2 separate regions of the Homo sapiens genome follow, and region 1 is linked to region 2. Evidence: fine-mapped expression QTL. A gene starts in region 2. The other region holds a variant in brackets. All regions are shown on one strand. Distances are from middle to middle. Region 1 holds the start of LOC124901522 (U7 small nuclear RNA). Region 2 holds the start of YIPF3 (Yip1 domain family member 3).

Region 1 (15,962 bases), 27 kb after region 2:
CTGCCTTAAAATATCTATATTTTTAAGTGTAATCAGAGGTTTTACATTTCGAGTCCTATAGTCAGAAGCTATCTGTGGGAACTGTTTGTCCATTCTAGTATTTCTGGTTGGCCACTTATTTCTATAGCAGGAGTTCCTGACTTAACTTGAATAATGGCATGGGGGTGTGTGGTAAGCAACACCTACTTTTTATATTAATAGCTATACATTTCTTGGAATTTCTACTTTTACTGGTGTCTGCAACATAACCCTTAAATGGAATGGTGTCAAAGGAAAAGATTCAGGACTATCTAGGCTGAAACAGACAGACATGAGTTCTGGAAAGGCAAATTAACATCCTTCCTTTGGCTAACTTCACAGCTGAGGAATGCCATTGGATTGCTTGACCACAGCCGGGCTCAGACACAGGTTATAGCTGATGACAAAGACAAACTATGGGGGCTGTGATGGTGAGCCAGCCTGAAGCTTCTGAGATGGGAACAAGGTTTAGACAACTGATGCCTCTAGCTCTAACTTCATCCCACATTCCCAGACTAGCTCCCTGTGCTCCAGCCACATGATTCAACCATCTCTATGTTCTGGACATACCAAGGCCTTTTTCTCTTGCCTCAGATCTTATACCTGCCATTCTGTTTGTCCAGAATGCCCAGCATTTCCTCATGCCCCTAACCTAGCTAGTTCGTACTCATCCTTCAAGTCCCCATTGGGAGTCAGCCTTCTGACTTCCCTCTGAGACTGGGTTAGGTCTCCCGATAAACACTCAGAGCCCTGCCACTTTCCTTCACAGCAAATACCACAATTATGACTGCACAGTTATTTTCATGCTTATTTTCAATGGGAAAATGAATTAAAGCAGTATCCTAACAAGGTCACAACTGGAAGGCCAGGCGTGGTGGCTCATGCCTATAATCCTGGCACTTTGGGAGGCCAAGGCAGGCAGAGCACTTGAGGTCATGAGTTCGAGACCAGCCTAGCCAACATGGTGAAACCCTGTCTCTACTAAAAATACAAAAAATTAGCCGGGTGTGATGGTGCATGCCTGTAGTCCCAGCAGGCTGTGGGAGAATCACTTGAACCTGGAAGGCAGAGGTTGCAGTGAGCTGAGATTGCACCACTGTACACCAGCCTGGGTGACAGAGTGAGACTCTCTCAAGAAAACAAAACAAAACAAAAAAGGTAACAATTGGGAAATGGCTTAAAATCTATTCCTTTAAAAACTTTGATACCTATCTACACACACACACACACACACACACACACACACACACACACACACACACACGAGGAGGCAGGAAAGTATACAAATATCCTTCAGGTTAAAGGCCATGATTTATTTATAATTGAATGGCTGTAACACCCACCACAACCTACTGGCTAAATTGAAGAAGGGGTTAACGGGGAAAAAAAATAAATTGCCTTCGATTTTCTCTGTATGCTAAGATAATGAAGTAAATACACTTGTTCATATAGAGCTTATAGGAACTCCACATTCTGCATTTCTGAACAAATAGATGGTCAAGGCAGTGCAAGACAAGATGGAAGAAGCACAAGATAGGCTGAAGCTGCTCAAGGAACCCATAAGAACGCCTGTAATCACTAGGATTCTAGTGCTTTAAAGGCCATGGTGGGAGGACTGCTTGATGATAAGAGTTCAAGACCAGCCTGGGCAACATAGCAAGACTCTGTCTCAACAAAAAAATTTTAAAGTTCGTCTGGCGTTGTGATCTGCCTGTGGTCCAACTACTCGGGAGGCTGAGGCAGGAAGACTGCTTGAGTCCAAGAGTTTGAGCCTACAGTGAGCTATGGTTGCACCAGTGCACTCTAGCCTGGGTGACAGAGACTATGACTCTTAAAAAACAACAAAAAAAGGGGACATCCATTAGGGATAAGATAAACCTTAGGAGAAAAAAGGTTACATTTCTTACCTAATATAGCAGATTTTTCCGCGTCAAGCATATCCAGAGCCTTGGTGAAAGGCTCTGCCATTTTGGCTAGCATTTCTGGTGCATATAATGTATTGTGGGTTCTGAAAGAAACAAGAATGCTATTGAGCTTTTCCATCTGATGCAGAAGGAAAGAGTGGGTTTTGCTTGTAATCCAGTGATACTACAGTTTCACACAGATCTGCCCATCAACTCCTGGCAGGGGAAAGAAAAGAAGGTATAAATATCTGAATGCTCGCTGGAGGAGGGAACAGACTTGTATAGATATAATTATCTTAGTATACAATACCTAAGATAAATTAACATGAGAACTAAACCCCAAGACACAGGACAGTATCAGAGTCCAAAGCTAGAAAGCAAAATTCTTTTAAATCTGAGGTGGTCCCAGGAGTTTTTTGACCACCAGTGATACGGAATGAAATGTGTGCAACACTGTGGATTTACAGGTAGGAACACAGAGGAGGTGGTAATTTGCCCCATTTTTCAATGTTTTGTCTTAATTCCAAGAGCATGGACCTTGCAACAGCTGTTTGGACCTGATAGAGGAACACAATTCCCAACACATGCTGTCCCCCACCAAAATGACCTACCTGAGCAATTATAGGCTTTGAGTAAGGAGCAAGGACTGTGAACTTGATATACCCGCTGTCCACAGCACTCTTACCTACTCACAGAAATGACCCCACTGAACAAACTGATGGCTACACGTTTAAGATGCAAACTGAAAACATCTTTTAGACCATGTTTAAACCTCCATAGTTTGTTCTTTTTGTTCTTAAGAAGTCATTCTAGGCTGGGCTCGGTGGCTCACGCCTATAATCCCAGTACTTTGGGAGGCCGAGGCTGGCGAATTACCTGAGGTCAGGAGTTCAAGACCAGCCTGGCCAACATAGGGAAACCCTGTCTCTACTAAAAATATAAAAATTAGATGGGTGTGGTGGTGCATGCGTGTAATCCCAGTTACTTGGGAGGCTAAGGCAGAATTGCTTGAACTTGCGAGGCAGAGGTTGTGGTGAGCCGAGATCATACCACTGCACTCCAGCCTGGGCAACAGAGTGAGACTCCATCTCAAAAAAACCCCCCAAAGGCCAGGCGCAGTGGCTCATGCCTGTAATCCCAGCACTTTGGGAGGCTGAGGTGGGTGGATCACGAGGTCATGAGATCGAGACTATCCTGGCTAACACAGTGAAACCCTGTCTCTACTAAAAATACAAAAAATTAGCCGGACGTGGTGGTGGGTGCCTGTGGTCCCAGCTACTCGGGAGGCTGAGCTTGCAGTGAGCCAAGACTGCGCCACTGCACTCCAGCCTGGGCAACAGAGCGAGACTCTGTCTCAAAAAACAACAACAACAACAAAACCCCAAAAAACAGAAGTGTTTCTATGGCTGGGCCCAGTGGCTCACGCTTGTAATCCCAGCACTTTGGGAGGCCGAGGTGGGTGGATCATCTGAGGTCAGGAGTTCAAGACCAGCCTGGCCAACATGGTAAAACCCAGTCTCTACTAAAAATATAAAAATTAGCCAGGTGTGGTGGTGGGTGCCGGGCATGGTAGCTACAGGTTTAAGATGCAAACTGAAAACATCTTTCAGACCATGTTTAAGCCTCCATAGTTTGTTCTGTTTGTTCTTGCTTAAGAAGTCATTCTAGAGGCCGGGCGCGGTGGATCACGAGGTCAGGAGATCGAGACCATCCTGGGTAACATGGTGAAACCCCATCTCTACTAAAAATACAAAAGCTAAATTAGCCAGACATGGTGGCGGGCGCCTGTAGTCCCAGCTACTCGGAAGGCTGAGGTGGGAGAATGGCGTGAACCCGGGAGGCGGAGCTTGCAATGAGCTGAAATCGCGCCACTGCACTCCAGCCTGTGTGACAGAGCGAGACTCCATCTCAAAAAAAAAAAAAAAAAAGTCATTCTAGGCCGGGCGCAGTGGCTCACGCCTGTAATCCCAGCACTTAGGGAGGCCAAGGCCGGAGAATCACCTGAGGCCAGGAGATCAAGACCAGCCTGGCCAACATGGTGAAACCCTGTCTCTACTAAAAATATAAAAATTAGACGAGTATGGCGGTGCATGCCTGTAATCCCAGCTTCTCCGGAGGCTGAGGCAGGAGAATCACTTGAATCCAGGTGAGCCAAGATCGTGCCACTGCACTCCAGCCTGGGTGACAGAGCGAGACTCCCTCTCAAAAAAAAAAGTCATTCGCTACCCTGGCCAGGCACAGTGACTCATGCCTGTAATCCCAGCACTTTGGGAGGCTAAGGCAGACGGATCACCTGAGGTCAGGAGTTTGAGACCAGCCTGGCCAACATGGTGAAACCCTGTCTCTACTAAAAATATAAAAATTAGCCGGGTGTGGTGGTGCATGCCTATAATCCCAGCTACTTGAGAGGTCAAGGCATAAGAATCGCTTGAACCCAGGAGGCGGAAATTGCAGTGAGCCGAGATTGTGCCACTGCACTCCAGCCTGCGCAACACAGTGAGACTCCAACTCGACAAAAAAAAAAAGTCATTCACTAACCTCATGCTGTAAATATGGTCTAGAAGTTTTACTTTGGCCAGATGCGGTGGCTTATGCCTGTAATCCCAGCACTTTAGGAAGCCGAGGTGGGTGGATCACGAGGTCAGGAGTTCAAGACCAGTCTCTGGCCAACATGGTGAAACCCTGTCTCTACTAAGAATACAGAAATTAGCCAGGCATGGTGGCACACGCCTGTAAATCCCAGCTACTCAGGAGGCTGAGGTAGGAGAATCGCTTGAACCCGGGAGGCAGAGGTTGCAGTGAGCCAAGGTCGCGCCACTGCACTCCAGCCTGGACGACAGAGTGAGACTCTATCTAAAAAAAAAAAAAAAAAAAAAAAAAAAAAAAAGCAGCTTTACTTTTTGGGTTTTAAAACACCTGAAAATTTTTTCTGTGTGTGGTGGCTGGTAGGAATCTAATTGTTTTTTCTAACACGGTGAAACAGACAATATGGTGTCTGTCCTCGACAACTCAACTCTGCATAGAAAGCCAACTGTCCCAGCATTGAATAATTGATTTTTGTTTTGTTTTTTGTTTTTTAAAGAGACAGGGTCTCACTCTACTGCCCAGGCTGGATTGCAGTGGTGTGTTCATAGCTCACTGCAGCCTCAAACTCCTGGGCTCAAGTGGCCCTTCCACCTCAGGCTCCCGAGTAGCTGGGACTATAAGTGTGCACCACCACACGTGAATAATTAAAACTTTTTTTTTTTTTTTTGTAGAGAAAGTGTCTGTGTTGCCCAGGCTGGTCTCAAACTCCTGGCCCCAAGAGATCCTCCTGCCCTGGCCTCCCAAAGTGCTGAAATTATAGGCATGAGCCACTATTCCCAGCCATCTTTTTCTAACTTTCATTACTTCTGTCATAGATCAACCTGTAATACATACCTGGGAGTCTTTTAAAGGCTAAACCTTTACTATTGTGTTGAACCCATCATCATCTACAAAGGATTATCTGCTAAAAAACTGAACTGGTATGAGGTCAGTTTTCTAGACCAGAGGTCACATTCATACATGTTTTAAGCTTGGCCGGCAATATGGTGTCTGTCCTCGACAACTCAACTCTGCATTGAAGCGCAATAGCAGCCATAAACAGTAGGTAAATGAATGGCCAAGGTATGTTCCAACGGAAGTTTACTTACAAACATGTGGAGACTTACATTTGGTCCTCAGGCTGCAGAGTGCCATATGTCCTCTAGACATATTCACGTGTAACAAAATAACAAAAATAAAGGAAAGTAGACAAGATCAAACAATACTCCAGAGATGCAATCATCAAAATTTCACCAGGGGAAACTCTGGAAATACAAGTCCACATTTTTCAACAAATAAATTGAAAAGAAAAAGAGGGCCAGGCATGGTAGCTCACGGCTGTAATCCCAGCACTTTGGGAGGCTGAGGCAGGTGGATCAGTTGAGCTCAGGAGTTTGAGACCAGCCTGGGTAACATGGCAAAACCCTGTATCTACTAAAAATACAAAAAATTAGCCAGGCGTGGTGGCGCACACCTGTAATCCCAGCTACTCGAGAGGCTGAGGCAGTCGAGAGGCTGAGGCAGGAGAATTGCTTGATCCCGGGAGGCGGAGGGTGCAGTGAGCTGAGATAGCACCAGTGCACTCCAGCATGGGTGACAGAACAAGATGGTCTCAAAAAAAAAAAAAAAAAAAAGGCAAGGAACTTATAAATTTAGAGCCTAAGAGACATCTTTTTTTTTTTTTTTTTTTTTTTTTTTTGAAACAGAGATTTGCTCTGTCGCTCAGGCTGGAGTACAATGGCGTGATCTCAGCTCAATGCAACCTCCGCCTGCTGGGTTCAAGTGATTCTCGTGCCTCAGCCTCCCAAGTAGCTGAGACTACAGGTGCGCACCACCACACCTGGTTACTTTTTTAAATTTTTAGTAGAGATGGGGTTTTGTCATGTTGGCCAGGTTGGTCTCAAACTCTTAGCCTCAAGGATCCGCCTGCCTCGGCCTCCCAAACTGCTGAGATCACAAGCGTGAGGCACCACGCTAAGCCTAATTTAGTGACTAAGAGATATCTTAAATATATATAAACCTTGTGTGGATAAACAGAAAAAAGGAAAACATTCGGTGATATTTGAATACTGATTGTATACTGGATATTGAATTACTGGTAGTATTTTGAGATATAACAATGGAAATGTGGTTATATTAAAAGACTTATTACTAGCTCCATATTGCTTTTGATTTGGGATTTTCGTCTCTATGTTTACAAGTGATTTAGGCCTATAATTTTCCTCTTTGGTACTGTTAATGTCTGGTTTTGGTATCAAAATAAATAAGCCTCATAAAATGAGTTATGGAGCACTACATTTTTCTTTTTTTTTTTCCCACGCTTAATTCACTTTATTTTTCTTGTATAAAAACCCTATGTTGTAGCCACAGCTGGAGCCTGGGTCTGCTGCACAGAGACTCTGGTGTGGGTCTTGACGAGGTGGTCAGTGAATTCCTGATAGGGAGACTTGGTAAATACAGTCTCCTTCCAGAGGTCGGGGGTCAGGTAGCTGTAGGTCTTAGAAATGGCATCAAAGGTGGCCTTGGCGAAGTTGCCCAGGGTGGCAGTGCAGCCCTGGGCTGAGGTGTAGCAGTCATCGATACCAGCCATCATGAGCAGCTTCTTGGGCACAGGTGCGGAGACAATGCCAGTGCCCCTGGGTGCAGGGATGAGGCGCACCAGCACAGAGCCACGGCGGCCTGTCACCTTGCAGGGGACGGTGTGGGGCTTGCCGATCTTGTTCCCCTAGTAGCCTCTGTGCACGGGGACAATGGAGAGCTTGGCCAGGATGATGGCCCCACGGGTGGCGGTGGCCACCTCCTTGGAGCACTTAACACCCAGACCGACGTGGCCACTGTAGTCCCCGATAGCAACAAACGCCTTGAACCTGGTGCGCTGGCCAGCACGGGTCTGCTTCTGCA[C/A]TGGCATAATCTTCAAAACCTCATCCTTGAGAGAGGCCCCCAGGAAAAAGTCAATGATCTCTGATTCCTTAATGGGCAGGGAGAAGAGATAGATCTCCTCCAGGGACTTGATCTTCATGTCCTTGACCAAGCGGCCCAGCTTGGTGACGGGCATCCACTCCTTATCTTTGGCCTTGCCTCCGCGAGCTCCGCGGCCTCAGCCCCGGCCCGGTCCACGGCTGCGACCCCGGCCCCGGATGCCACTGGCGAAACCTCTGCGGAAGCCACCGCGGTTCCCCATCCCAGGGCCACCAGGGCCTCCAGGCCCCCCCACTGCACCGGCGTCATCCGCCATTTGGTGTTTTCTCGGAGAAGAAGCTACATTTTTCTATTCTTGGGAATAGTTTGTCTAAGAGATAAATTATCTGTTCCTTGAAGGTCTGGGAGAACTCCCATGTAAAATCATTTAGGCCTGGAGTTTTTTGGTCTAATTTAACTACTACCAATATAATTAATATGAAGTTATATCTCTTTAGGTTTTCTATCTTGTTGAGTTAGAATAAGTTACATTTTCCCTGGAAATTATCCATTTTTAAATATTTTATTTTTAAAAATAGAAGACGGGGCTGGGCACAGTGGCTCACGCCTATAATCCCAATACTTTGGGAGGCCAAGATGGGCGGATCACCTGAGATCAGGAGTTTGAGAACCAGCCTGGCCAACATGATGAAACCCTGTCTCTACTGAAGATACAAAATTAGCTGGGCATGGTGGCGCACGCCTGTAACCCCAGTACTTTGAGAGGCCAAGGAGGGGGGATCACCTGAGGTCAGGAGTTCAAGACCAGGCTGGCAAACATGGTGAAACCCTGTCTCTACTGAAGATACAAAATTAGCCAGGCCGGGCGGATCACGAGGTCAGGAGATCAAGATCATCCTGGCTAATACGGTGAAACCCTGTCTCTACTAAAATTACAAAAAATTAGCCAGGCGAGGTGGCGGGCACCTGTAGTCCCAGCTACTTGGGAGGCTGAAGCAGGAGAATGCCGTGAACCTGGGAGGCAGAGCTTGCAGTGAGCCGAGATGGCGCCACTGCACTCCAGCCTGGACGACAGAGCAAGACTCCGTCTCAAAATAAATAAATAAATAAACAAAATTAGCCAGGCATGGTGGCACACACCTGTAATCCCAGCTACTCAGGAGGCTGAGACAGGAGAAGCGCTTGAACCTGGGAGGTAGAGGTTGAAGTGAGCCGAGATCATGCCTTTGCATGCCAGCCTGGGCAACAAGAGTGACACTCCGTTTCAAAAAAAATAAATTAAAAAATCGATATGGGGTCTTGCTACGTTGCCCAGGCTGGTCTCCAGCAATGTTCCTGCTGTGGCCTCCCAAAGTGCTGAGATTACAGGCATGAGCCAACATGCCCAGCCCCATTTTTCTTAAGCTTTTGAATTTACTGATGTTATCACTAGTATTTTCAAAGAACCAGCTTTATTTTTATTAAGATTTTAAAAAATTGAGGCATAATTCACATAACATAAAACTAACCACTTTAGGAGTACTATTCAGCCATAAAAAAAAAAAGAGATCTTGTCATTTGCAACAATATGGATAGCACTGGAGGTCATTATGCTAAATGAAATAAGCCAGGCACAGAAAGACACATCACATGTTCTCACTCTTTGTGGAATCTAAAAATTTAAACAATTCGACTCATGGACATACAGAGTGTAAGGATGGTTAGCAGAGGGGCTGGGGAGGGTAGTGGTGGGTTAGGGGTAAGGTAGGGATTGTTAATGGGTACAAAAAACCCACAAAGAATGAATAAGATCTAGTATTTCCTAGCACAATAGGGTGACTATAGTCAATAATAATTTTGATTGTACATTTAAAAAGCATAACTGCAGTTGACTATAACTGGATTGTTTGTAACACAAAGGATAAATGCTTGAGGGGATGGATACCCCATTTTAATTGATGTGATTATTATTATGCATTGCATGCCTGTGTCAAAACATCTTATGTACCCCATAAATATATGTATGTACTGTGTACCCACAAAACTTTAAAAAACTAACAAAAAACATCCCCACCAAAACCTAACCATTTTAAAGTTCACAATTCAGTGGTATTTAATACTTTCAAAGGGTTGCATAAGTAACCTCTACCTGGTTCCAAAACGTTTCCATGGCCCCCAAAATAACTGCCAGGCCCATTAAGCAGTAGCAGTTGATCTACACTTTCTTCTCCTCTCCAACCTGAGGCAATCGCCAATGTACTTTCTGTCTCTAGATATTTCATAAAAATGAAATCATACAACATATGGCCTTTTGTGTCTGGCTTCTTTCACTTAGCATAATGTTTTGAAGGTTGATCCACAGTGTAGTAATTATCAGTACTTCATTTTGTAAGTACTGTAGTAATCCAATACTTCTTTTTTTCTTTTTTGAGATAGAGTCTCATTCTTTCTCCCAGGCTGGAGTGCAGTGGCACGATCTTAGCTCACTGTAACCTCCATCTCCTGGGTTCGAGTGATTCTCTTGCATCAACCTTTTGAGTAGCTGGGGTTACAAGCATGCACACCACCACGCCTGGCTAATTTCTGTATTTTTAGTAGAGATGGGGTTTCACCATGTTGGCCACACTGGTCTTGAACTCTTGACCTCAAGTGATCTGCCTAAGGCCTTAGCCTCCCAAAGTGCTAGGATTACATGCATGAGCCACCGCACCCGGCCGATTTTAGAAATCTAGTGTGTATTTTATACTTACAGTTCATCTCAATTCAGGCTAGTCATTTTTATTTTTTAATTTTTATTTTTTTTCTCTAAGGAGCTTTCCAGAGAAAACTGGAAAGCCTACCAGACCAATTCTGAAAGTACTGTAACACTTGACTAGTAATACTTCAAGTGCTCAATAGTTTCATGTGGCAAGTGGCTTCCATGCTGGACAGCACAGCTTCAACACCTTCTATTATCAGATTATTTGACGCAGGAGGTGCTATGAATACCTTGCTACATTCTTAAAGCAAACTTTTCTCTACTAAAAAAATAGTAATTTATTTATTTTTCAATTTTTTTTTTGAGATGGAGTCTTACCCTGTTGCCCAGGCTGGAGTACGGTAACATGATCTCAGCTCACTGCAACCTCCGCCTCCCAAGTTCAAGCGATTCTCCTACCTCAGCCTCCTGAGTAGCTGGGATTACAGGCACCTGCCACCATGCCCAGCTAATTTTTTTTGTTGGTGGTGGTGGTATTTTGAGTAGAGACGGGGTTTCACCATGTTGGCCAGGCTGGTCTCAAACTCATGACCTCAAGTGATTCACCTGCTTCGGCCTCCCAAAGTGCTTGGATTACAGGCGTGAGCCACTGTGCCCAGCCAAAAAATAGTAATTTAAAACTCCCAACTCCAGCATATAACTGGTGGGAATATAAATTAGTATAACCACTTTAAAAAGCAGGTTGCATCTATAAAAACAGAAAATACACATTTCTTATAAGCTAGGAATTCTACTCCTATGTGTGTATCCAACAGAAATTATATATATATGTTCACAAAACGTATTTGACATAAGAATGTCAACAGCAGCATGATATGTAATATTAAAATATCACCCAAAGGTCCATCAAGGCTGAATAGTTACAGCATATTCACACAATGAAGTATCATACAAGCAAGGAGAACAAAAAAAACACAAGTACATTCATGCAGTAACATGGATGAACCTCAGAAACAAAATATTGAGCGAAAGGAAGGCAGACACCAAAAGGTGCATACTTCTGATTTCATTTTCACAAAGTTCAAAAACCTGGACAAAATGTTAAAAGTCAGAATAGTGGGCTGGGTGAGGTGGCTCACATCTGTTATCCCAGCACTTTGGGAGGATCTCTTGAGCCCATGAGTTCAAGACTAGCCTCAGCAACATAGAGAGAACCTATCTCTACCAAAAAGTTAAAAATTAGCTGGGCATGGCTGCTCATGGCTGTAGTCCTAGCTACTCAGGAGGCTGAGGTGGGAGGACTGCTTGAGCCCATGAGGTCGAGGCTGCAGTGAGCCGTGATCGCAACACTGCACCCCAACCTGGGCGACAGGATAAGATCGTGCCTCAAAAGTAAGTAAGTAAGTAAATAAATAAATAAATACAAATCAGAATAGTAGTTATCTTTGAGGGGCAGGTAATTACTGAAAAGAGGTATTAGGTAAAGTTGCTTCTTGATCTGAGTGCTGATTACATGAATGTGTCCACTTTGTGAAAATTCATCTACACACACTCACAAGTTAAGCCCTTTTCTACATAAATGTTACACTTCAAGATAAAATTTATTTAATTTTTTTTTTCTTTTTTGAGACGGAGTCTTCCCTGTTGCCCAGGGACAGGGAAGACTCTTCCCTGTGATCTTGGCTCACTGCAACCTCCACCTCCCAGGTTCAAGCAATTCTCCTGCCTCAGCCTCCCGAGTAGCTGGGATTACAGGCGCCCGCCACCATGCCTGGCTAATTTTTGTATTTTTAGTAGAGGTGGGGTTTCACCATGTTTATTGGGCTAGTCTCGAACTGTTGACCTTAAGTGATCCATGCGCCTTGGCCTCTCACAGTGCTGGGATTATAGGCATGAGCTACCGCGCCCAGCCAATAAAATTTACTAAAAAAGCAAAACTCTTAATAGCTCCAGCTACACACTATTCAAGCAATCTACTCTATCATTACATGCTAGGCATTTTTCAAAATGCCTTTTGATTGATTTTTGGAATTCTCTAAAAGCACTGAACTCTTAGAAAAGTATCAAAATGATAACCATCTGAAGACTAAGAAAATAGAGTCCTTAAAGTCAAGCTGAGTCTGCTGTTAGCCTCCTAAATGAAAGGATAGACAGAACAGGTCTTGTTTGCAAAATAAATTCAAGACCTACTTATCTACCGACAGCAATTATACACTTTCCATTGTCTTTCTATAGAAAATAGGAGTAGTAAATTTATAGAGGAAAAAACTGGAGAAAGACATAGTGAACACATGAGAATCTTCCTCTACTGATTGATAGGAAGGTGACTAGAAATTGAAAAGAGATTATACTTTTTTAAAAAAAGAAAATTATATAAAAAAAGATAATCATACTGTTGTCTTGTGGCCTCTAGAGTCAACCAGAAATGAACCCTGTTTCCACGTCTGGGTTGGCCACATAGATTCTGGCCACAGGCCTAAAAAGGTCTAGGTGATTAGCTTCTTGCCCTATGATTTCCATCACTTTCACGTTTCTCTAGCTGCAGAAGAACCTTGTGGTTTTAAAAAACATCACTATGGGGCTGGGTGTGGTGGTTCACACTTGTAATGCTAGCACTTTGGGAGACTGAAGCAGGCTCAGCTGTCCGAGACCAGCCTGGGCAACATGGCAAAACCCCATCTCTATTAATAAAAACATCACGATAGAAATAAGCCTCTTCTTGACTAAATGTTTAACCCTCTCAGTACAAGTCCTACTTCTTTTCAGAGATCTCTTTCCTCCTTTAGAAATCAAAAGAAAATATTATTTATTTATTTATTTATTTTGAGATGGAAGTCTCACTCTGTCGCCCAGGCTGGAGTGCAGTGGCGTGATCTTAGCTCACTGCAATCTCCGCCTCCCGGGTTCAAGCGATTCTCCTGCCTCAGCCTCTCGAGTAGCTGGGATTACAGGCATGTGCCACCATGCCCAGCTAATTTTTGTATTTTTAGTAGAGACAGGGTTTCATCATGTTGGCCAGGCTGGTCTGAAACTCCTGACCTCAAGTGATTGACCCACCTTGGCCTCCCAAAGTGCTGGGATTACAGGTGTGAGCCACCACACCCCGCCAAAATATTGTCTATTTCCACAGACATGTCCACAATGACAACTTTATCAGACACTCCAGCCCTCCAATTTGTCAACATTAACTTAAAATCTTTGGTTCTCAGGCTTCAGGTCTTGGGTGTCTATTCCCAGGAGAGTTTCACTGCGACATGAATAATTTGGTTTGCCCCGTTGAGACTGCTTTTACTCCTTGGAGAAGGGGCCAAAAAGTACTGAAACAGAGCTCTAACAATGTAATTTAAACATCCTGTGAGAGGCCAGGTGTGGTGGCTCACTCCTGGAGTCCCAGCACTTTGGGAGGCCGAGGTGGACTGATCACTTGCGGCCAGGAGTTCGAGACCAGCCTGGCTAACATGGCGAAGCCCTGTCTCTACTAAAAATACAAAAATTAGCCAGGAGTGGTGGTGCACACCTGTAGTCCCAGCTACTTGGGTGGCTGAGGCAGAAGAATCGCTTAAGCCTGGGAGGCGGAGGTTGCAGTGAGCCAAGATTGCACCACTGCACTCCCAGCCTGGGTGACAAAGTGAGACTCTGTCTCAAAAAAACAAACAAACAAAAAAAAAACCAATCCTGTGAGATACAAAAAGCACTCTTTGGCCAATAACTGAATTATATAAAAAAACCTATCTTTTCATTTAGAGACCATCCCTGAGTCATCAAATATCTATATCTAGTAACTGATAAGCCTATACTGGCCTACTTCCACTTGAATATATTAACTCATGTGATCTAAAACAGTGATTCTGAATGTTTAATGTGTATATAAACCACTGGGCATCTAGTTAAAATGCAGATTCTGATTTAGTATGTCTGGGGTGGGGCCTTGATTCTGCCTTTGAAATAAGCTCTCAGGTGATGCTAATGCTACTGGTCTTAGGACTCAGCTTTGAGAACCAAGGATCTAGCAAACTCAGATGAAAAATTTATAATTCCTTTGTTTAGCATGTTCAGCCAGCGGTTGTTTGGTTCATCTGAGCTCAGACTCAGTATTGATAAATTCAGATTAGCTCATATGAATACCACCTAGACAAGCATCATTATAGAAGGCAACTGCCCTGCTCCCAATGAGCAATTCCTTTACTAAAAAATTTAGACCAAATAAAACTTACAAGTAAAAATAGGGATGAAGTATAAAGAAATGGAAGAACAACAAAGAGGAGGCTCAAAATGGGAAAAGCCCTTTTGGGATTATCCCCTTGGGTTCACATGGAAATTAAGATTTATGCAAGTGAGAGCTGATGTTATTTTTTTTAAAACTGAGACACCCTCTAGAAAGAAATAAGACTTAAATCAATCCCTCATTAATACCACTAAGATATGAAGACATGTAAACAGACTAAACTTTTGAAATTTTTAAGGTAAAGTAGAAAACAACAGAGAAAAGCCATTATTCTGACTCACCTTATAAGCGCAAGCAAATTGTCAAGAAGTTTCAGAATCTGCTCTGTGCAGGGGTTACGGAAGATTGGATTTCCACTGGATGTATAACCCACCACAAATCCCCCAGCTTTGGCCTCTTCTAGGTCAGTGGGCCAGCAAGTTCGTTTCACCACACCCAGAATGCTGTATACACAAAAGCTCATCTATAGAAAAATAAGAATGACAGATAAATATTAAAAGGAAAAAAAAAAAAAGACCAAATACTGTTAGATATATTCAAGGTTCTGGCAAAAGTGACACAGAGGCCAGAGAGAATGAAATAATCCTCTGCTCCCCGGCAATCCCCCATCCCTTCCTTTAAGGTGAAGTCCAAGAGGGATCCTCTCACTGCCATTTTCAGGGCCAGTGGTAGGCTCTGGAAACTTCCCTTGCAGTAAGCTGTCTTTCTAGGAGCTGCAGTGACCCACCCACAGGACCCTGATGAGAAGGTGGCTTAGATACGATCCAAAACAAAGTGTTTAAAATGCCATCACTTCATCTTCTTTGAGTTGACCCTTATTGGGCCTTGACAGCTAGTGTCCTAATCCCCCCTCACGGTACTCTGAATCAACCTACTACTTGCCAGGTTAATTAATGGGACTTGTGCCATAATGGAGCCAGGAACAATGCTTATTTAAATAGCAAAGCACTGAAAAATCTCAGGTTTGCAAGTTAAGCCATCACTTAAGACTTTACATGCCAGAGAGCAATGGCAGGGAGGACTCACCCTGCTGACCAAGTTCTGACCTACTTCCTCATTACACCTTCAGTCTTCAGAGCTATTTAGAGATCCTTAAAGCCAAAATAATGACTTCATAGAAAAGACCATCTGCTCTGCTGTGGGAACTAACTCAAGAATTCAAGACTAAAGAAGAAAAGAAAGGAGAAGCTTAGGGAAGTGGAGACTCCCACGTTTCTCACCAGTATAGAAAAAACAAATCTATGAGAAACTTGACAAAAGACAACACCCTACTCCTACCCATGGCCAATGCCACTTCCCATTCCCAGGAAAGTCTTACTCGTGCACGGTTTAAGCCACACGGATCCTCCAGGCCTGGGTCACAGCTCTTCTGATCTGTACCCACATACGCAATGAAAGCATCAACATCTGACAGCACTCTGAAGGTTGGAGGGGGAAAAACAAGTTACATCATGACTTTAAACAAGGACAGTTTCTTCCACAGGAGTTAACAGGCTATCATTATTTGGCCCTTAAGAGCAGTTTTTATAGTGAGAGGAGTATAATCATACTAATTGTCAGTTGTCATTTGAAGGTTTAAATTTCCCTTCCCACTCCCAAATATTATTAGTAACAATTTAAGAATTAAACAAGAATATAATCTTCAAAATATAAA
Region 2 (14,735 bases):
CATTTGTGGACCGTACTCCACCACCTGCTGCTGTGGCCCAGCGCACAGCCTTTGGACGCGATGCCCTCCCTGAGCTGCAGCGCCATTTTGCCCATAGCCCCGCTGACAGAGATGAGGTGGTCCAGGCACCTTCTGCCCGACCCGAAGAGAGTGAGCTTTTGCTACCCACAGAACCTGACTCTGGCTTTCCCAGGGAGGAAGAAGAGCTGAACCTGCCTATCAGTCCTGAGGAAGAGCGCCAGAGCCTGCTGCCCATTAACAGGGGCACAGAGGAGGGGCCAGGCACTTCCCACACCGAGGGCAGGGCCTGGCCACTCCCCAGCTCCAGTCGCCCCCAGCGCAGCCCCAAGAGGATGGGGGTTCACCACCTGCACCGCAAGGACAGCCTGACCCAGGCCCAGGAGCAGGGCAACCTGCTCAACTAGGGCCCCTGCTGGCCTTCCTGCCATTGCTGCACCAGGACTGCAAGGAGTCCCCACACCTTGGCAGCTCAGGGTCCCCAGTCCAAGCCCTTGACCTCTCCTCTATCCAGACCCGCACAGCTGTTTCCTGTGTGGATGGGGTCAGGTTGTGGGCCATGCCAGGCCTGTCAGCTGCGTTGACTGACTGCAGCAGCTTGCCTCATGGTTTTCCCTTTTTCTTAGAATATTTATTCTTCAGAGGTAACATGCAGTTGGGTCTCAAGACCTTTCCTCCAATCAGCCCAACCCAGCCCAGACTGGGCTTTTCTGGGGAGCTGAGGAGTTTATCAGTATTCATCTTCCATCCTTTCATAGTCACAAGTTTTGTTATTTTGTTTTTTTTTGGGGGTGATGGTGTAATTGTTAACCTCATTTCCGTTTCCTACCTGTTTGCTTCCCCCCCCAGTCCTCCGCATGAGCTGTTGCCCTCCAGGGGCCTGGCACAGCTGGCCTTGGGGACGAGGGAGAGGACTGATTCAGGGCCCCCTCAGCTGTCTCCTCCCTCCCTCTGGAAAGGAGGGTGGGGCTCAGGGGCCTCAAGCTGGGCTCTGTGTGAGGCCTGGCCCCCACTCCCAACCTTGGCTCTAGACTGTTACTCTTAAGCTTTGAGAAATTTTCACATTGATGACTATTTTAAAATCAAATAAAACTATTTTACTGGTATGGCCTAACTTGTCTTAATGACCTCCCCTCTCCCACTTTTCTCCCCATTCATAAGTATTCCCAGTCCTAGTCTCATCCTAGTCGGCTAGTGACTCCCCCTCGCCCCACTCTGCCTAGGGTTTCCCTAGGCACAGAGCATCAGGGAGCGGGAAAGGGGGCACCTTAAGTAACCTTAGCAGGGTTCCTGAGTCTTCCCTCGGAGGCAGGGACCATATCTTTATGGGGCTAGTGTAAGGTGTTGCCTCAGAGGCCTGGGTTCTAGGCCTGGCCAGGCCTATTTTGAGATCCTGGACCAGGTCACGCAGCTTAGAGCTTGGGCTGTGCGATGCTACTGCCCCCTAGTGGTGCTTACTGGTAGTTCCAATTCCTCCCCTACTGCCGGCCCCAAGTGACTACAGCCACACGACAGGTTGTGGAGTTCATAAAATCTTTTCCGAGCCAGCGGGTTGCAGCCAGAGCTGCCAAGTTCAAAGGCATTGCCGTGGGTTCAAGTGCCCCCCAAGGCTGTTGCTCAGTCACAGCTTCCAGAGCTTCCTTCCCACCACACTGCCAGGAGCTGCCAGAGCCCCCATGCAGCCCCTGACCCCAGTTCCCTCCCAAGTCCCAGGGCCTGACCCTGATATCTGGGGCAAGGTGCTCGGGACATAGATAAGTGAAATGGTGTGCAGAGGCCCAGTGGAGAGTCACATCTCGGTCTCAGCCAACAGACTGTCCCCTAGTCCTGACGTCATTAGCACCATCTGAGAGCTGGGATCTGTGGAAGGGCAGAGAAGTGTTCAGACCACCATTCCTTCCTCCAATGGGGACCACAGATAGGTGAGAGCCTAGGTTCTGCACACCCACTCTCCCTTGTCCCGAGCCTCTTCCAGACCTGGCTCTGATCAACCCTCTGGGTTCTTACCGCTGGGGCACATCCAGGAGCTGCTGCCTCTCTGGTGGGCAGCAGGCTCCCGCCCTCTCTCCCATTCCTGGGTGTCGCCAGCCCCTCCTGCCACTTCCTCCTCCTCCTCTCCCTCAGAGAGGAGGTCACAGATCTGTTGCTGCAGCTCTGGGCTAATGCTGTTCTCAGCCAACACCAGGCTCCGCAAAGCTGTGGGGTAATTTTCTACCATGTCCAGCAGGGTCTGAAGTGGGGAAGAATATGGAAAAGGATGAACACAGTTAAGGCAGGTCCTCAGACCTCAACCTGCCATGCCTTAGGTATGTCATCAGACACATAAACTAACCTCCACCCCATCCCCTGGCCGTGCCCAAACATGACGACTTCCCACCTGAGCTGACTGGTTGGTGAGCCCTGTGCCCTCCAAGTCTAGGACCTCTAGGGTACGACTAGAGGCCACAGCTACAGCCAGCATTCCTGCCACATGGTCACCTGGGGAGACAACACACGTGCACACATTCATACACATGCCTGCTAATCCTTACAGATAGCTTCCCCATTGCCTTAACAACTTTAGATACTAATCCCTGGCCAAGGAAACATGGACAATTGGTGGTGGTCAGGAAGGGATCATTGTGATTGGTGAGTGAAGGCACGAAGCAAGTTAGGCCCACGGGTGGTGACTGATGTTTTGATCTATTTGTTGGTCACCTGGTCCGCCACAAAGCTATCTCCTTGACCCCTGGGGGCTCCCGTTTCTCTTCCCTCTCCCAGTGTACGGGTTACCATGTCAACTGATGGTCCCAGGCTCTTGGATAGGGCATGAGGCAGTGACAGCCCAAGGGGGTATTCTTGAGCCTCACCCAGGGGGTTGTAATCCAGATTGAGGACGCGGACCTGGGAGCTGTGGGCCACGGCAATGGCAAGGCGGCTCCAGCCCTTAGGGGTGATGCCAGGGTTGGCACTCAGCGTTAGCTCCTTCAAGCCTGGGCAGCATCATAGCAAGAAACCAGAATAGGGAGGGTTAAGCCCTCCTCCAGCCCTTCCCCACAATCCCTGTGTCTCTGGGGTGTCCCTAGTGGCTGGGCACCACCTTACCCCCACCATAGAGGTCAAGAGCCATTAAGGAGGCCCATGCTTCCTCTGCCTGCCCCAGCCTGGATTCCTGAGTCTCCATGCTGCCCCCCGTCCTGCCCCTTCCTGAGAGGAGTAGAAAGATGTTCTCGCCCACATCATCAGAGCTCTGGGGCCACACCCCCTTCCCTCTGCATTTCGATTTTCATCACTGCCACACTAGCCCAAGCCCTCAACAGGGTCCTGCTCACCAGATTTGGCCCCATCTGGGGGCAGGAGGCCACAGATGAGGTTGATGGCTTCATCACCCAGCATGCAGTCCCCCAGGTCCAGAGCCACGAGGGCAGGGTGGAGGGCCAGGGCTGGGTTCAGCAAGGCCAGCCCCGCATCTGTCAGGGGGCTCCCATGCAGGCTGGAGGAGAGTGAGAGAGCAGGGTTACTGCAGTCCTCCGCACTATCTACATGGGAAAGGGGCACTTTCACTTCTGTCAGCCCTAGGTATGGGGAGGGCAGTCACAGCGCTTGAGAGGCCTGGAAAAGGAGAAGGAAAGTTCTAGATTCTCAGGGAATACAGATAGAGGGAGAATTCGGTTTGTTTTCTGGGGCAGGGATCCAGGACATTGCACAGGGAGGGGCAGAGAAGGGGTGGGTGGGTGGTGGACCGGAACTCTGCAGTGGGCAGGGCTCTCGTCCCCACGGGGATATTCCCCCTTGGGAACCAAGGAGCTGCCCCAGTGAAGTAAATGCAGATGATTAGGTGGGGAGGTACGGCCCCCACCTCATGTCAGGAACTGGTGGGTATCCCAACACGGCTAGGGTCGCGCGTGCAAAGTCCAAGCATGTGCTTGGAGGGTGCTGTGAAGGCATGGGCCGAGGCACGGTGTATGTGCATAAGGCATGTGAAGGTAGGATGGTACTGGAAGGAGTGTGGAGGAACAGGAGGTGCCAGGGGAGTGTATGGAAGGGTGCAGTGCCCGGGACCCCCTTGCGAGGGGGCGCACTCACAAGAGGGACTGGATGGAGCGGTTGGTCCGCAGAGCCTCAGCCAGCTGCTTGATGCGGCTGGGGCTGGACACGACGCCCAGGTTAAGGTTGAGCTGCGCCAGGGACGTGGCCCCGGCCAGGGCCCGGCAGATGCGGCCAAAGTCGCGGTCGCAGAGGCGGCAGCCGCGCAGTGAGAGCAGGCGCACGGCGTTGTCGCGAAGGCCGCGGCAGATGTCCCGCACCTCGGCGCCGGACAGCGGCTCCCCCGAAATCTGGATGGAGCTGGGCAGCATCGTGCCCACGGCTGGGCCTCCGGGTACGGGGCCGGAACGGAGGTTGGTGGGGCCGCGGGCGGGGCCGGGGATAGGGCCGGGGTCGGGGCCCCGGCAGGGGTCGCGGGCGGAGTGGGGCCGGGGGTGGAGGCGGCGGCTGTGGCGGAGGCTGCGGCTGCGGCGGAGGCTGCGGCGGGGGCGGAGAAGAGCTACCGGGACTGAGCCGGAGCCGGCCAGAGGTGCGGAGGCGTCCAGGGCGCGGGCCGGGCTGAAGTGGGGCGGCGCTGGGGCGGGGGCGGCCCGCACGGTCCGTGTCTGGGCGTTGGGGCGGGTGCGCGTTCCGGGGGTTGGGCAGGCGCTGCTCGGCGCTTGTCCTTGTCCCTCGCGGTCGCGGCGGCGGCGGCGGCAGCGGCAGCGAGCGGCTCAAGGGCTTCGGCTTACCGGTCTCGGCTAGGAGGCCGTACCCGCTCCCTCCTTCTCTGCCGCCCGGCTCCCCCCGACCACCCCGCGGGCCTGGCCGCACGGCTGGCAGAGAGAGCCTGAGGCGGGCGGCTGGCGGCAGCTCCGGCTCCAGCTCCAGAGAGCGAGCGGGCGGCGAGTTCCCATGGCAACGGCCGCGTCACCGGCGCTCGCCCCGCCCCCTGCCCGGCCAAGGCCACGCCGGCCCGCGAGGTTCGCGTACACTGGGTGGTTCGGGGCAAGGAGCTGGGAGCGATAGGCCGCTCTTCCCTTGGGAGTGGGGTCAGCCAACTGGCAGGCGGCAGGCGGCAGGGCTGAGTGGGTAGGGCTGACGGGGAGCGGAATGGAGGCACGCCCCGTGGAGATGGCGTTGGGCACGGTTACTGCTGCTTCTGCCCATTCTTCCATCCTTCCCCGTTCCTAAGGTCCATACCCCCGCCGGAATCCAGGGCACTGTTCCCTCCTATTTGGAAGGCCCCAGGGCCCTTTCATCCGCGCCGCGCCTCGCTCCCGCCCCCGTGACTCGAGGCGCAGCGTGCGTGGTGATCCCGGCCCATGGGGACTTCCCCGCTTGCTCCTCGCCAAGATGGCGGCCTCATCAGGGAGGCCCCAGGGGCCACGGCTGGGCAGAGCCAGCTTGAGCTGCTGGGGAGAAGGGTACCCCATAGGGTCCCTAGGGCAGGGGAGCCTCAGATAGATGCAAGGTCCTGGTGCCACACCTTCTCAGGTACGCAGGGCACTGTTGACATCTGAGGGTGTGTCCGTGCCGCGAGACTGGGGCAGCCAATACAAAGAAGGTGCCAGGGCCAGGGCCCTGGAGCACTGGTGAGGACGTGAAGGCGGCTGAGCCACACTGCACGGTGCAGGCGGTGCTGTCTCAACTTTGTCCTCTGGCCAGGGTGGTGGGGGACTCACTTGTGTAACGCAGGACAAATGAAGGGCACCTCTGTTTGTCCCTTTGTTAGGAGGGATAGATGCTGCTGACCCAGATTTACTAGTGTTAAGATGATTATTTTACATAAAATATAATATTCAATATAGTGAAGGGAGGTCAAAGGCCCTATTCCCACTCTTAGCCACCTGAATTAACTTATTAAGTGGAGCATATTAAAGAGGTGGTGGGGGTGGATGGTGCTATGTTAGGAGTGGTGGTTGGTTTTAAGAGGAAAGACAGAAAAACTAAAAGGAGCTGGCCCCAGTACCACCAAGGCAAAGCCAAATTTGGCTTCAATTAAGAGCTCCACAGGAAAATTATCAACACAATGCCCAGGTGCAGAAGATCCTTGTTTTGACACGGGGTTTAAGTCGGGATGTTTTGTTCAATTGTCACTGCTTCCTTGGCTTCCCAAGAGAGCAGCTGAGCCCAGACTCAAGCTGGCTGCAGTGTTCCATCAGGCTTATGGCTTTTGTGCTTGAGGCCTCCCTGCCGCTTCATGGGTCAGGTGTGATATTCAATCACTGCCTTCTATGTAGTCTGGCCTGTCCCACCTTTATCTTGCCTGGGTGAGGATATGAAGAAGGGAACATATGACATTACCACTGTTGACTGAGTAGGAAAGTATATAGGAAGCGGGATGACAGGGAGGACCACTGGATCAGCCGCTGCAGTTCCAGACTTCAATCAACATTTTAATTACCAAGTCTATATTTAGCAAGACAATGTGGGAGAGATAAAGAGGAAGGAAGGGGTAGGTGGGGAGGGGTTCTCAAAGGAGCTGACCCATTTTCTGCATTGGCTGCAGAGCCTTGCAGTCCTGGCCAGGAGTTCTTGGCCTTGTGCCTTTCAGAAGTGCCGACAGGCATCAAGGAGGTACTTACGCAGCTACAGCTCAGTGGCAGCTGCAAACCCCATCTACGAAACATGTCATCAGGACTGTCCTTTAATAGTCTTCCTCCTCTCTGCAGCTGCGGGAAAGAGGACTGGCCAAGAATTTCAGGTGGGGTCAGTGTGACTGCAGGGTCACCGCAACAGCTTTGGCTGTGGCGTTGAGGACGGTGGTGGGAAGCCGAGCAGCAGGGAGCATGGCAGGGATGTCTCTGGGGACCCTCTGGATGGGCGGGATGTTGGGGCCCTCCAGTGTGTCCAGGATCCCTGGAAGGAAGATGGAAGGTGAGCGAGGATCAGATGGGCCCAGCCCACCAGCCATCATATCTAGCTTCTTGCTCTAGGCAGCTGCTTTCCCATTCTCCCCCACCCAGACCTTCCTGCCACTTACCCTCTACCACTTTGTGGTAGGCAAAATGCAGATAGAGCAGGAAGAGCATGTGTAGGGCAGCCAGGGTGCCACAGAGGAGCAGCCGCTGTGTGGGGCCCACGGTCCGAGACACCAACACTGCTACCTAGGACCATGAGAATACAGCTCAAAGGGCCTGGCTCCAAAGTGAGGAGTGGGGACAAGACACCCCCACCCAGGGCAGAACCATCTTTGGGCTCTTCCCTCCCATTTAGGGCTCTTTGTGAGATGGACAGCTCCAGGCTGTCTTCCCCAACTCCCTGGGAGGACAGCCCACCCCTGGAAGCCTCTTGCCCAGCTTACCATGCGCAGTGTGGACAGTCCACCCACCAACAGCCAGAAGAGGTAGAAGAGGGCGTGGAGGTGGATATTATAGGTGATGAACAGGACAATGCAATGCCCAAAGAGGCCATAGCCCTGGGAAGGAGGATGGTGGAGAGGAAAATCATTCAGGTTGGGCTGCTTTCTGGCCCCTCATGGGGACCCTGGGAAACACATGGTCCATTGGCCTACTCCTCCCATTCCAGGCTTTGGGGCCCCAGGACAGATGCCGACCAAGGCCTGGCTACTCTTTTTAACATCACTCTTGCCCACCACACCTGGCTCCTTACCAGCAGTGCCAACATCTGCAGCATGGTGATCTGGGCGTTGCACAGGTAGGCAAGGAAGTAAATGAAGGATGAGACTCCCAGCCAGTAGCCGAAGCAGGTGCCAATGGCTGTGCCCATCAGGGTGCCCTCCCGCTGTGGGGTGAAGGCTCTATTTAGTCCTAGGAGGCCTCTGATCTCAGCCTCACCTAGGGCCTTCCGCAGGGGCTGTTCCTGTCTCACTCCACCATTGTATCCTCAGGCAGCTTTCAACCTAGTGCAGCCACCCCCCCAAAGTTGTCTGTCCTGCTTACGATAATAGTGTCAGACGTCTTCATCCCATGGAGTAGGATAGCAACCAGAGTGAAGACCAGCATGAGAGGTCCATAGAGTTCACCTGCAATTTTCTGTCAATATACCAATTCATTCAGGCTGGAGGGTACAACAGCTCATCTGTTTATGGCTTCCCAGGATTTGCCTGGTGGTCCCACCCTCTGCCCTGGTGCTTCCCCCGGCTCTCCAGACATGCCACCCTCTATTCACCTGGGGGAAGTTGACCATCTTGATAGGGATCATGGACTCCAGGAGCCTGGGAGAGGAGAGGAGAGATTAAAGCAAAGGCAGCACAAGGCCATGAGGTTCTGGAGGGCAAGGCCTGAATTTTATTCATCTCTAACTCCAGGGAATGGGGCCTGGCCTAGAAGACATGTTGGATGACACGGTAGAACAGGGTAGTAAAGACAGATAGGGAATGAGGAAATCATTTCCTTGCCCCTAAAGTTACTTCCAGGAAGGACAACCCTCTGAAACTTAGCTGACTGAAACAGCAGCTATATGGAGAACTCAGCCCTACTGGGCCTTGAAGGAGGGCCCGACCATGTATCCGTCTGCCCCCTCCCCTTGAAAAGACAGGCAGGCTGGGCGCGGTGGCTCACGCCTGTAATCCCAGCACTTTGGGAGGCCGAGGCAGGCAGATCACAAGGTCAGGAGTTTGAGGCCAGCCTGGCCAATATGGTGAAACCCTGTCTCTACGAAAAATACAAAAAATTAGCTGGGCATGGTGGCGGGCGCCTGTAGTCCCAGCTACTCAGGAGGCTGAGGCAGGAGAATTGCCTGAACCCGGGAAGCGGAGGTTGCAGTGAACCGAGATCGCGCCACTGCACTCCAGCCTGGGTGACAGAGTGCGACTCCATCTCAAAACAAAACAAAACAAAGACATGACAAGACAGGCAGACCTCAGCAGAGAGTACCCAGAATTCAGGGTTATAATGAGGAAGCCCTGGGAAAAGTCTAGCCGGCTAGATGGAAAGTTTAGAATGAAAGGTGTTACTGAGGGAATAGTAAAAACGCCTCCTCTTCCTGCTTATCTGTGCCTCCAGGCACTTTCGAGTATTTTCTTGAAAAATATATGTGAAGTGGTATGAAAATTTAGTCACTTCCCTCTTCTCTCAAGTGGCTAGCTCCTAATCATACCTGGGATTTTAGCTAGGTTTTACTTCCTCTGGGAAACTTGTCCTGTCCCACCCACCAACCTGCTTTGGCTCACATATCCCTCCTGTGTGCCCCATCATAGAATGAGTACTGTACTGTAACTGCACTCAAGAGCAAGGCTCCCATCTATCTTCACCACTGAACCAGATACGATTAGTTTAGCGTCTGGCACAGAGCAAATGCTTAATAAATACCTGCTGAGTGGTCCTGGGTATTTGATTAGCATTGATTAAAGGATGAACAAAAAAACCAAGCCAGGATTAAATCTAGTTCTTGAAAAGTCACTCAAAAACTATGCCCTGATATTTTGATTCTGAGACTGTTCTGGTGCTGGGAATAAAAAGATAAACAAGACAGAGCCTGCTTTTGAGATGCTGTTGGTCTCTGGAAGGAAGATTCCAGGAATAAGAAAGGATAGCAGTGGTGAAGTGCTGTCTATTAGAGGCAAGCGCAGAGTTCTTTTTTTTTTTTTTTTGAGATGGAGTCTCACTTTGTTGCTCAGGCTGAAGTGCAGTGGCACGATCTCGGCTCACTGCAAGCTCCGCCTCCGCCTCCCAGGTTCATGCCATTCTCCTGCCTCAGCCTCCCGAGTAGCTGGGACTACGGGCACCCGCCTGTCTAATTTTTTTTGCATTTTTAGTAGAGACAGGGTTTCACCGTGTTAGCCAGGATGGTCTCGATCTCCTGACCTTGTGATCCGCCCGCCTCGGCCTCCCAAAGTGCTGGGATTCCAGGCGTGAGCCACCATGCCCGGCTGGCAAGCACAGAGTTCTATAGGAACACCAGGAGAGAACAAACTGGGGATGGGATTGAGGAATGTGGAACAGAGGAAGTGACATCTGAGGTAGGTTTTGAGGGAAGATGAGTAGTCAGTTAGATGGAAAAGAAGAGGAAGATGGTGTGCTATTATTACTTGTTTCAGTGACAGGTGCAGTGATGAGAGGTGATGGGGTCATGAAGACGGGGAGCCCATCAGAGCCCAGGGCTTGAAATCTGACTGTAGTGTGCATGAAGGTCTAGGTGTTAGGAGGGAAGCTTCTTCAAGAGAAGGCTCCTCACCTGCTTCGCACCTGAGCAGGCTCCACATCAAAGTAGGGTCTGAGGATGTCGATGTTGGCGTACAAGCTGAAGGCCCTGGAGGCTTGTCTTTTCCCAGCCTGCCACATCTGAAGTAAGGAAGATGGGCATAGGTATTGTGGTACTGTTGGTTCTAGATCCTGTTGCCTATTTTCCGTTTGATTTCTACATGGTTCTAACTGGACAACCTGGGGCGAACATCACCAACACCAATTCCAGAACACGGGACATACCTAGGTCTACTTTTCTACCTGCAGAGGATTCAATCTTGCTTACCTGATCTGCCACCTGCCGGCTCAGCTGTCCCTTAAAGCCCTTCATGCCCAGGAACTCTCCATCCTCCTCTTCAGCAGCAGCTGCATCAGCTGCATCAGCGTCTACTTCTTCCTCGCGCAGGCGCTGATGCAGCTCACCCATATCCTCGAAGCTAGAGCCTGAGGTATCATCCATGTTCTCCATGTCAATCACAGCTGAGCCTCCGCCCTGTGAAGACAATGGCTCCTAGAGTGCAGGACTTTTCTGTTCCATCCATTAAGTCCTCTGCTCATCCCAGGGTTTAGGGCTTTGTTCTTCCACTGCTGAGGATACGGCTTGGAATCACTACAGATCATGCCACTCCATTCCCCCTCATATGCTCTCAGAACGCCTGGTTTCTAGCTTTGGCTATCTTTTCTAGCCTGGGAAACCTACTAGTCTTCCATTCATGTCTTTCTCCTATGTTACCTATCAAAGACTAAAAGGCTGAAAAAGTGCCCATTTCCTTCTTTCCTAAGCCCCAAACAAAACTATACACATAGTATGTTTTCAGCGAATGCCAGTGAATCCCACCCAACCCCACTCCATGCCTTACCCCGACCAACCTCCTAACTTGTTCCAAGAATACCTTCTTCCTAATGCCTCGGGCGGGCCCTGAAACCCGAGATCCTCAGGCTGGAGTAGTAGTCTGGCCCTTTCAGGTCAATGTTAATCCCACTGACTTTAGTGTGCACGAAGACCCAAAGAAGAGAGTTTTGTAAATGGAGCGGACTTCCAGGCCCAGAGGGGGAATCCCCAAGACACTTCTGGACATCGCCGGCCCTCCGGCTGCTGGCAGCTGGTGCCTTGGGGCCATTACCTGGATGTTTTCTTCGAACCCTCCCCATTCCGGGCCAGCTCCATTTCGGGCGCCGCCCGCCGGCGCCGCTGTAGTTGCCATGTCCCTTGAGGGCTCCCGTCGCTGAAACCCGCGCTAGCCCCGCGCGCGGAGTGGGCAAGATGTGGGCCTCCGGAAGGTAGACGTCCAGGGTCGAGGAGAGGTGGGATCGGCCGGAACACAAAAAGGAGAAGCCCGGATGTTTGGACAAAAGCAACTTCCGGAAGCTGGGGACGTGGACGGGGGCGGGGAAAAATCTCGCGATATTTAAGATTCCAGGAGGCGGTGCGTTGCCACGGAGACGGAGCAGGGCTACTAGGACGCACGCGCGAGATAGAACCTCTAGTCTCGTGGAGAGATTGAAGATGGCGGCTTCTCAGGCGGTGGAGGAAATGCGGAGCCGCGTGGTTCTGGGGGAGTTTGGGGTTCGCAATGTAAGCCTTGTGGCCTTGAGCTCGGGCGGGAGGAATGAGAGCGGAACAGGGATGGGTCTTGGGATTGGCGTGGGGATAGCTGTGGGCTCACTGTCCCTTCGTGGACAAATTCGTCCCTTTGCTCTAGGTCCATACTACTGACTTTCCCGGTAACTATTCCGGTTATGATGATGCCTGGGACCAGGACCGCTTCGAGAAGGTAAGTGGGGCCGGAGTTGTCTGGGGAGGGTTATGAAGGCCAGACCTTGTGGTCTGAGCAGCCTGTGTCTGTCTCAGAAGCTGCTCTTGGGGGTCGCTCCGTTTGTAAGTTTGTTGAGCAATGTGCTAGACGCTCCGTTTACAGGCCAAATTAGACACGGTTTCTACCCAGTTCTGCAAAGATGTTCAGTCTTGTTGAGGAATGGTGTGTATAAACAGTGAATCTAGTGTAATATGGTGAAGGTGGTTGATAGCGATGAAGACGGCAGGGTTGGGGTGGGGAGCATTACGCTGAGACCAGGAAGAGGGGCGGAGAGGTACTTAACATTTCAAGAGGAGGGTACATCTCAATTGAGCCTTGAATGGTAAGTAAAAAAGAACAGGAGTTAAATTATGAAGGGTTTGTTTCAAGTCAGTGAAGTTCAGGATATACAGGTTTTGTGTGTATTTAGTCTTTTGTATTGTTTCACTTAGCTTAAAATAAGGGTTAAAATTGCATTTAAATAGATTACTGAATGTTACCGTTTAGGCAACTGACCTTTGCGTGCAGCTTATAAACATGATCTGTAAATCAGTGCTTGGGAAAATTTTACTTTTTTAACCTGTTGATACAAGGAATAAAGTATGAACAATGAAAAAGGTTAATGCTTGAAAAAAAATTATGGCTTGTGTGAAGTGTGCTCCGGGCATGTCCAAGTAGTTCTGGCATGAGTGGTAGGCAAGGTTGAAGTGTGTCTTGGGCACTGTTGATGATAGGGAGATTGAATAGTTCTTAAGCAGACATGATGAGATTTGCAACCTTGGTGGCTGGGAGGGAATGAGTTTGAGGAGGATCATATGGAGCAGGCAGATCTGTTGTAAGGGAAGCTGAGGTTGAAGACATGAACTAAGACTGATGGTAGAAATAGAGCAAAGGTAGAATAGAAGGTAAATTTATGATTGCTTTGGTAAAGGCTGTGGGGGTAGCATAAAATGACTTTTTGGCTTGGGAACTGCTTTGATGCATTGTGGTATCATTTACTGAGAGGAGAAATGGGTCTGGGGAACGGGAATGATGATGCATTGTTTTCTGCATGTGGAGAAATCTAGCAGGCTAGAAGACTGCATGCTTGAAATGAGATCAGAAGTGAGATAACATTTTGGGAGTTGTCAGAACAGATAGTTGCTAAAACTGTTAGTACAGTTAAGGTGACCTGGGAGAGAGACAAGAACCTGGCAAATTTAGAGATGGGTGGAAGTCGATCATCAGAGAAGGAAGAAGAGTGGAGCTCAGAGCTCAGAAACCAGGGGAATAGTTCAAAAAAGGAGGAGATTTTTTTCTTTGCTTTTCATGAGGCACTCTTATGTCCCAGGCTGGAGTGCAGTGGCGCGATCTTGGCTCACTGCAACCTCCGCCTCCCGGGTTCAAGCAGTTCTGCCTCAGCCTCCCGAGTAGCTGGGACTACAGTCATGCGCCACTATGCCCAGCTAATTTTTTGTATTTTTGGTAGAGACGGGGTTTCACCATGCTGGCCAGGCTGGTCTCAAACTCCTGACCTTGTGATCTGCCCGTCTCAGCCTCCCAGAGTGCTGGGATTACAGGTGTGAGTGACTGTGCCGGGCCAGGAGGGGGTTTTTTAATCAATGCCAAGCATAACAGAAGTCTAGTAAGAGGACTGAGTAGTGTCAACAAAACTAAGCACTATGGTAGTTTCTGTTCTTCAGTAGAATAGCTTCTGTGGATGGTTTGGTTGGAAGCCATATTGCATAGGGTTTTAATGAATGGACGACAAAAATGGAGACTTTTCATGAAACTTAAAACACTGGGCGAGATAGAATATTTAATAAGAGACATTTGGGCAAAGGGAGGTTTTTGGATGAGAGGATAATACTTGAGGGAATTATCTAAGGGGGAGGTATGAAGAGATATTACACAGAGAGCAGATTTCACTTAAATGTTTTTTCCTGTCCCTCTAGAATTTCCGTGTGGATGTAGTACACATGGATGAAAACTCACTGGAGTTTGACATGGTGGGAATTGACGCAGCCATTGCCAATGCTTTTCGACGAATTCTGCTAGCTGAGGTATTGGCAGGCATGGTGACAAGGCTGGAGTTGCTTTGGGAACTGCACTGACACCTCACTTGGAGAATTAAGTGTCTCAAGCTGTCCTTCCCTCCTTAATTTTCCTGGAATTTTGCTGAGCATTTTACCTTCTCATTCTTTGTAAATTTCTCATTAAACATTCTAGGAAGAGAGATAGCTCCCTACCTCTGGAGGTTGGGGTTACGGGGATAGGTAGGGGGTCTGTTGGGTTTTTGCAGATAAGTGGTTATTTTTCCTTGGGCAGGTGCCAACTATGGCTGTGGAGAAGGTCCTGGTGTACAATAATACATCCATTGTTCAGGATGAGATTCTTGCTCACCGTCTGGGGCTCATTCCCATTCATGCTGATCCCCGTCTTTTTGAGTATCGGAACCAAGGTGAGAAAATGAAATTTTGGGAGAAGTGGACTATCTGGGTTCAAATCCTGGTTGACTGTGATGTTGGGTAAGTTACTTATCTTTGTACATCAGTGTCTTTCATCTGTGAGAACACTTGCCTTGTCTCCCAAGTTTGCCATAATTAAATGGGAAACACGTAAAGCATTCAGCATAGTGCTGGCACTCAGACGTTTACTAGTTCTTAGGAGCTCCCTCCATTTGTGCAGGAGATGAAGAAGGCACAGAGATAGATACTCTACAGTTTCGTCTCCAGGTCAGATGCACTCGGAACCCCCATGCTGCTAAAGATTCCTCTGACCCCAACGA

The links. PIP is the estimated chance that this variant, and not a neighbour inherited with it, causes the effect. A credible set is the group of variants that fine-mapping cannot tell apart.
Region 1: its variant is the best candidate, but not a certain one, in a credible set for the expression of YIPF3 in whole blood (INTERVAL, PIP 0.75).

Annotation. Positions count from the first base shown.
Region 1 is chr6:43,531,982-43,547,943 of GRCh38, forward strand. XPO5 (exportin 5) reads right to left here. Exons shown (of 32, transcript NM_020750.3): 19 at 15,627-15,726; 20 at 14,590-14,771; 21 at 1,926-2,026. LOC124901522 (U7 small nuclear RNA) reads right to left here and starts at 10,255; the gene lies at 10,194-10,255. It also overlaps a transcript of POLR1C not described here, the pseudogene RPS2P29 and LOC124900224. RefSeq lists silencers at 1,321-1,521, 10,324-10,373 and an enhancer at 14,988-15,962. The variant C/A (reference allele first, on the strand shown) is at 7,389.
Region 2 is chr6:43,505,431-43,520,165 of GRCh38, forward strand. YIPF3 (Yip1 domain family member 3) reads right to left here and starts at 11,496. Exons shown (of 9, transcript NM_015388.4): 1 at 11,297-11,496; 2 at 10,459-10,665; 3 at 10,165-10,271; 4 at 8,158-8,203; 5 at 7,929-8,021; 6 at 7,639-7,770; 7 at 7,331-7,444; 8 at 7,010-7,133; 9 at 6,402-6,885. The coding sequence starts at 11,377. The coding sequence ends at 6,737. It overlaps POLR1C (RNA polymerase I and III subunit C), which reads left to right and starts at 11,659. Exons shown (of 9, transcript NM_203290.4): 1 at 11,659-11,748; 2 at 11,876-11,947; 3 at 13,903-14,010; 4 at 14,276-14,408; 5 at 14,636-14,735. The coding sequence starts at 11,680. It overlaps TJAP1 (tight junction associated protein 1), which reads left to right. Exons shown (of 11, transcript NM_001350562.2): 11 at 1-1,124. The coding sequence ends at 425. LRRC73 (leucine rich repeat containing 73) reads right to left here and starts at 4,916. Exons shown (of 6, transcript NM_001012974.4): 1 at 4,084-4,916; 2 at 3,330-3,490; 3 at 2,868-2,990; 4 at 2,396-2,496; 5 at 2,026-2,248; 6 at 1,538-1,878. The coding sequence starts at 4,355. The coding sequence ends at 1,808. RefSeq lists silencers at 4,494-4,763, 4,784-5,073 and an enhancer at 11,236-11,785.